Homo sapiens: one gene and its partner. The gene in region 2 interacts genetically with the main gene of each other region. Each region holds a gene or a part of one and is shown on either strand. Other genes may lie near its edges.

Region 1 (3,570 bases), on a different chromosome or scaffold from region 2:
AGCCCCCAAAATTCTGATTCATAAAATTTTAGCCTGAAAAATTTTAAAGGAAGGCATAACCAGACATTCAGTGGTCTACAACAGCCCAAATGGCATCCAAGATTAAAACTTACATGTTGTGATTCTCAACCCAACCTTTCTTCCTCAACACTACGAAATCTCCCTTCAGCCTCCTTAATATATTTTCGGGCACCTGATGATGTTTGGTTGTGGCACTTACAGAAACTCAAAACAAGCAGGATATTTTATACAAATCTGATCGTACAATATAAAAGTTATTATTAATAATAAAGTCTCACCATATGCACACATCTTAAATAACGGGATTCCTCATTAAATACTCATCAAGAATCTCATAATTTAAAAGCTGGAAGGTAAATTACAAACAACGCTTACCCTACCACCACCATGGCACCACTTCGGCCATTCTTGACAGAATTATTCTTTAAATTATGCAAGTTTTAAATCATAAAATTTTTAGAAACTCATCCCTAACTTGCAGTAAAATGCAACCAATTCATATCGACATCCCTTAGCTAACAGCTAAAGAAAATAAAGGATTGTTAAACCAAAGTTATTAAACTAATAAATAATTATTAGTTTCACTAAATTCTGCTTCTATTAAGCCTAAGTTTATTTCCCTAACATATATCAGGACCTTAAGCAACTTCAAACCTACTCTTCAAACCTGTCAGTGAATAACCACTTCTTTTTTTTTTTTTTTTTTTTTTTGAGACAGAGTCTCACTCTGTTGCCCAGGCTGCAGTGCAGTGGCACAATCTCAGCTTACTGCAATCTCCGTCTCTTGGGTTCCAGCAATTCTCCTGCCTCAGCCTCCGGAGTAGCTGGGATCACAGGTGTGAGCCACCACACCCGACAGAATAAACACTTCTAATATATCAATTAACATTAACTTAAGACACTAACGTCCTCTCTTCTTCTTCTTCTTTTTCTTCTTCTTTCCAGTTGCTCCATCTCCATCGCCATCTCCATCTAAGAAAAGACATTTCAAGTACATGTTCATTTAAACCTCATAAGCAGAGGGACAAAGCAAGTACAAGGAGACAAGTATTTGCTCTATTCAATAAATGAACAAACGTTAGTTTATTTTATCTTGTTTACATTTATTCTTTCACTGAAATAAGAAATAGGAAGCAGCTACCAGGTGTGGTGGCACATGCCTATAGTCCCAGCTACTAGGGAAGCTGAGGTGGGAGGATCACTTGAGCCAAGGAGTTGGAATCCAGCTTGGGCAACATAGTGAGACTCCAACACTAAAAAATTTAGAAACAGGAAGCAGCAGTTTAGCAAAGTGGGAGGTAACGTGATCTAGGACTTACGTGGGTTGAACCATATGAAAATGCCAATACTTGACCATTTTTGGTCAAAATTGCCACTTCTTTTCTTTCTTTTTTTGAAACAGGGTCTAGCTCTGTTGCCCAGGCTGGAGTGCAATGGCGCAATCTCAGCTCACTGCAACCTCCGCCTCCCAGGTTTGAGTGATTCTCATGTCTCAGCCTCCACCTCCCAAGTATCTGGGATTACAGGTGCATGCCACCATGCCCATCTAATTTTTTTTTTTTTTTTTTTTAGTAGAGATGGAGTTTCGCCATGTTGACCAGGCTGGTCTCGAACTCCTGACATCAAGTGATTTGCCAGCCTTGGCCTCCCAAGTCCTGGGATTATAGGCGTGAGCCACTGTACCCAGCCTCAAAATCACCATTTCTTATGTTCAATCTTATGAAATTATCAAAAACCTAGCAGGCAGAAGAGAACAGTAGAAGTACAAATATTAGGCTAGGTAAAGTGGTTCACACCTGTAATCCTAGCACTTTGGGAGGCTGAGGCAGGTGGATCACTTGAGCCCAGGAGTTTGAGACCAGTCTGGAGGACATGGTGAAACCCTGTCTCTACTAAAAGTACAAAAAATTATCCAGGTGTGGTGGTATGCGCCCATAGTCCCAGTTACTTGGAAAGCTGAGATGTGGGAGGATCACCTGAGCCAGGGAAGTCAAGGCTGCAGTGAGCTGAGATCGAGCCACAGCACGTCAGCCTGGGTGACGGGAGGGAGATCTTGTATCCTAACAACAACAAACCCAAAACACAAATATTGCTGACTTATTCATTATGGATTTTTAGATTCAAAAGCCTAACAAAAGGCACACGAAAAATTATAATCTAATTCACATATCGTGCACTGTAACGTTAACAGTAACCTTCTTCACCCCATTAAATGTTTGTTGGGCTCTTAAGTGCCAGGCAATAGGGACAGAAAAATAAGATAGTTTCTGTTCTGGAGAAACAATAGTTTTTTCCAGACTAAAACTGGTTATGAATCTTGAAGTATTTGTTTTAGGTTGTGACTAGTGTATGTAGCACTATACCTAGTGTATGTAGCACAACCTAAAACAAATACTTGAAGATACATCACCAATTTTAAACATATACTAAAAATCTTTCCATCTGGGTGACCTTGGGCAAGTTATTTAGCCTCCCTCTACCCTGGTTTCTTCATCTTTAAAATGGAACAAAAAGGTCCTTCTTTGATACTTTCATCCTTTTGAGGCTAATTACCTTATTCAATGTCCAATGTCTGTATTCAGTACAGAAAAACAGCCACCATTTATAGAACTTTGTGCCAGGATGGCAGCAGAGCCAGGATCTGAGTATTAATCTATATATGTTTATAGTTCCAACCATTATACCATGTTGAAATTTGTGCTTTTACATGTCTTTTCTTCACAGTATCCCAGCATATTCTTCATAGGCAGAGATGGTTGGTTTTTTTGGTTTTTCTGTGACAGGGTCTCACTCTGTTGCCCAAGCTGGAGTGCAGTGGCAGGATCACAGCTCACTGCAGCCTCAATCTCCCAGACTCAGGAAATCCTCCCACCTCAGCTTCCTGAATAGCTGAGACTACAGGCACGCACCACTATACCTGGCTAATGTTTTTTAATCTTTTGCAGAGACAAGGTCTAAGTTGCCCAGACTGGTCTCGAATCGCATCTCAGCCTCCCAAAGTGCTGGGATTATAGGCATGAGCCACCAGGCCTGGCCAGCAGAGGCTGCTTATGTTTATTTGTGTTACTACTATGCCCAAATCAGTTGATATCTGTTGAATGACAACTGGAAATCATATTTTAAAAAAAAGAGTCTCAAGCTTTTAAGCTCTGCCTTGCACTATCTAGAAACATTAATTCTAAATGAACCATAGACCTAAACATAACAGCTAAAAATATATAAAACTTCTTGAAGAGAACACAGAACATCTTTGTGACCTTAGAGACAGCAATGACTTAACTTTTTAGACAGGACACAAAAAGCACTACCCATAAATTTAAAAAACAGATAGATTGGACTTTATCAAAATTAAAACTGTCCTATAAGCAATACCATTAACCAGGTGAATAGCCATCCCATAGAAATATCTGTAAAACATATTATCTGATAAAGAACTTGCAACCAGAATATACAATGAACTATTACAATTCAATAGGATGACAAATAACCCAATAAAACATGGACAAAAAATGTGAACAAACACTTTACCAAAGATAAAGGAAAAAGCAA
Region 2 (3,570 bases):
CTAGACCTCCAGAGTCAATTCTAGCCCCCTCCCTTATATGACAGGCCAATAGGTCCTCTTGATTCCACCTCCTTATCTTTTTTTTTTTTTCTTGTGGCAGGTCTTGTTCTATCACCCAGGCTGCAGTGCAGTGGCACAATCATAGCTCATTACAGCCTTGATCTCCCGGGCTCAAGCAATCCTGCCTCAGCCCCCGAAGTAGCTAGGAATATGAGCACATGCCACCACAGCTAATTTTTTTTTTTTTTTTTTAAGTAGAGACAAGGTCTTGCTATGTTGCCCAGGCTGGTCTTGAACTCCTGAGCTCAAACAATCCTCCCGCCTTGGCCTCCCAAACTGTTGGGATTACAAGCATGAGCCACCATGCCTGGCCTATCAATTTTTCTCACCATGACAACTGACTTGGGTCATGTCCTCATTTCACACCTGCCTCATTGTGCTTTCCCATCTGGTTCTGAGTTCCTCTAGGATCAAAGGACCAAGTTCTTACTATTCATGTTCATATCCCAGTGTTACTGCATATAATTTCAGCTGGCTGAAAAAAGGATTATATGTAAACTGAAAAAACAACAACAACAACAAAAAAAACACATAGCTCTGCTGGGAAGACATGAAACTTAAAAGGAAAGATCATAAGATTATAACCAGATACAATCTATCAATTATAGCCTATGCCCTATCACCCCTGCAAAATATTTTGCTTAAGCTTACATCTCTAGCTTTGAGATTAAAATTACCCAGATATCAAATTATAACACTTTCTAATAGTGACAGAAGCCACTCACCTCAAGAGGAGTCCAAGTGAGGAGCTGAAGTCGTATGAGGGGGTTGAATAATTTTGGCAAACAAAGGCCAATGTAAGCATCTTTGTAGGATGTGTAGTATTTTGAACGCCATGCTTCAAACTGTGATTTAATACAGTCAATTGAATAGAAACTTTCAAGGACATCTTCAAAAACTTTGCCGGATTCTTTTGAAATTCGATCTAAAAACAACAAAACCCCACAGAGAACCATACATTAGTATGAAGTAGGAAAAAAACAGTCCAATATTTTCAGTGTTTTCTTTGTAGCTTCAGTATCAGAAGATACGCTCATTAACAAAGGGCCAATTGTTAGTCACAATTTAGAAGAAAAAAATAAATTGAAGTTTCAATTTGTCTATTATGTAAACTAAAGTGCAGCCAGTCCTTGTTTTGCAGTTCCAGTATATACAATTTTTCTACCACAGTTTGGCTAAATAAAACCTGTTCCCAAACAAGATGGTTCAAATTTCAGTTACTACGGTGTATTAGCCATAAGTAATTGTGCCGCTAGCTTTTTAGTTCACAGATCACTGCACAGATTAACAGCTGTGCATCATAATCAGTCACTAATCACATTGCTTCATTCAAACTCTGTTGGTGATTATAATAACTGACATAGCCAACTATCAGCTGAATGGATGCTAGGAACTTTAAGTGAAAAGTTATTTGCGAATAAGATTTTTTTTTTTTTTTTGAGACAGATTCTCACTCTGTCACCCAGGCTGGAGTGAAGTGGTGCGATCTCAGCTCACTGCAATCTCTGCCTCCCAGGTTCAAGTGATTCTCCTGCCTCAGCCTCCTGAGTAGCTGGGATTACAGGTATGCGCCACCATGCCCAACTAATTTTTGTATTTTTAGTAGAGATGGAGTTTCATCATGTGAGCCAGGCTGGTCTCGAATTCCTGACTTCAAGTGGTCCGCTGCCTCGGCCTCCCAAAGTGCTGGGATTACAGGTGTGAGCCACTGTGCCCAACCAAGAATAAGATACTCTTATGATGTCCCAGATTACTTGGGAAAAGGAAATATTTACAATGGAGAGATAAAGTTCTGAGAACCTTTACTGCAAGATCAATCTTAACATTGCTAATAGTGGGGACAGTCTAACATTTGTCATGTGCTTTTAAGCAGTATGAAACAGCATCCTGTATAAATTATTCTTGGGGAAGAAAAAAAAAAAGTTTAACTTAAATCTAATTAAGCCTTCAGACCTAAATTCCAGTTTACAAGAAATGGATCAAAGAACAAGTTAAACAATGCTATGAGGAAACATACAGACCAGTCTAGAATATAGGACAGTCTATAAGAGAAGTGGCCTGGTCTCTTCAAAAATTTAAAGAACAATAGGGGTGGGTGTGTGAATGTGTACTTAGGGTTACTCATTTATTCCAGATTTAAAAATGTCATAACCAAATGCAGAGCATGAACCTTAGGTGGATCCTGGTTTCAAAAACCACAAAATAACCCATAAAAATAGTTCCTAAAAAGGGTTTTTCCAGGATGCCATTGAGAAAAATTATATATGGACATGATATTAAGAAATCTGTTTTCTTATTGTGCTAAAAAAAGAAATACTTAATCAGAATAGGCATCTAACAAAAAGAAAAAAGATAATAATACTGTGATTATACAGAAAAATATACTCATTTAGAGGAAACACACTCTGAAATTTTGGGGAGTGAAGAGCCATGAGGTCTGTAAGTTACTTTCAAATGGTTCAGCAAACACACACATCTCCTTGTATAAAGAGCCAGGCAAACTTGGTGAAATCATAAGCATTGTTATCTGAGTGATAGGTATGTGGATGATCACTGTGCTAGTCTTTCAAATTTTGTTTAGAAATGTTCACTGTAAAAAAAGTAAGAGAAAGAAGCTTCTCCAACTAAGTTCCAAATGGTGTGCAATTGATATAATTCCAAACAATTATAGCCAATGGTGGGAAATGAAGACTTTTATTTGGGATCCTTCTGAAAATGCCTGGCACATAATAGTACTAACCATTCCTCTAAGGTGAGATTACTTATGACTCCCCAAATCAAGAGTTTCCTTCAGGGCTGAGTGCTCTACTGCCAAGCTTTACCTTTCCAGACCAGACAGGCTGCAATGAGAGCTGCCCTCAAGGACCTGACACATTTCCAGTCACTTAAAATTCTACCATTTGGAACAGTAACAACATTTATTATGCAAATACTAAGTACACCCTATGAGAAGATGTTACCCCTATTTTTGAGAATTCATCATGATATTCACTAATAAAAAGGCATGCAAATTTCTGCAATTAAAAAAGAAGTGTCTGGTTCTAATGCAGAGACCATGAAGATTCAAATCATTTCATGGTAAAAACCATACCCAAGTAGAAACTAAACTGATGATGAGTCTTATTTCCAAATAAATGTCTAACCTTTTTCCAGATTGAAATTAGTAATATCTGTAGAAGTTTCTTCATCATCACTGGAAAGGCCTTCAAGGTGATCTGCCATCTTACCGGTTTGTTCTCTGGCTTGTCTACGACGAGTCCTAAATAATAAACATCAAGTTCCCAAACTAGATAACAGAGACTCCTCCCTTCCCAAACAAGCCAGAGCAAGGGTTTTGAGAATTACCTCCTGGCCTCCCGCTCTGCAATGCGACGTTTTGCATGCTCTTGATACAGTGCCCGATCGCGTCCAAAGGAGTCAAGATTTGGTGCCATCAGAGCTTTGTCTGCAAAACAACAACAGTTAAAATTAAAAGCCATCTTTCAACAATCTTGAGGAAAGAGTTTGCAC

Evidence for each region.
Region 1: changes in PAXBP1 (region 2) and METAP2 together harm fitness more than expected from each alone (negative genetic interaction), as found in Homo sapiens cells (one large-scale study listed by BioGRID).

The regions. Positions count from the first base shown.
Region 1 is NC_000012.12:95,480,638-95,484,207, reverse strand, and holds part of METAP2 (methionine aminopeptidase 2), read right to left. Parts: intron 994-3,570; coding exon 928-993; intron 1-927. UniProt on the Homo sapiens protein: Cotranslationally removes the N-terminal methionine from nascent proteins. The N-terminal methionine is often cleaved when the second residue in the primary sequence is small and uncharged (Met-Ala-, Cys, Gly, Pro, Ser, Thr, or Val).
Region 2 is NC_000021.9:32,747,714-32,751,283, forward strand, and holds part of PAXBP1 (PAX3- and PAX7-binding protein 1), read right to left. Parts: exon of another isoform or gene 3,541-3,570; intron 3,506-3,540; coding exon 3,406-3,505; intron 3,320-3,405; coding exon 3,204-3,319; intron 986-3,203; coding exon 786-985; intron 536-785; coding exon of another isoform or gene 500-535; exon of another isoform or gene 1-499. UniProt on the Homo sapiens protein: Adapter protein linking the transcription factors PAX3 and PAX7 to the histone methylation machinery and involved in myogenesis.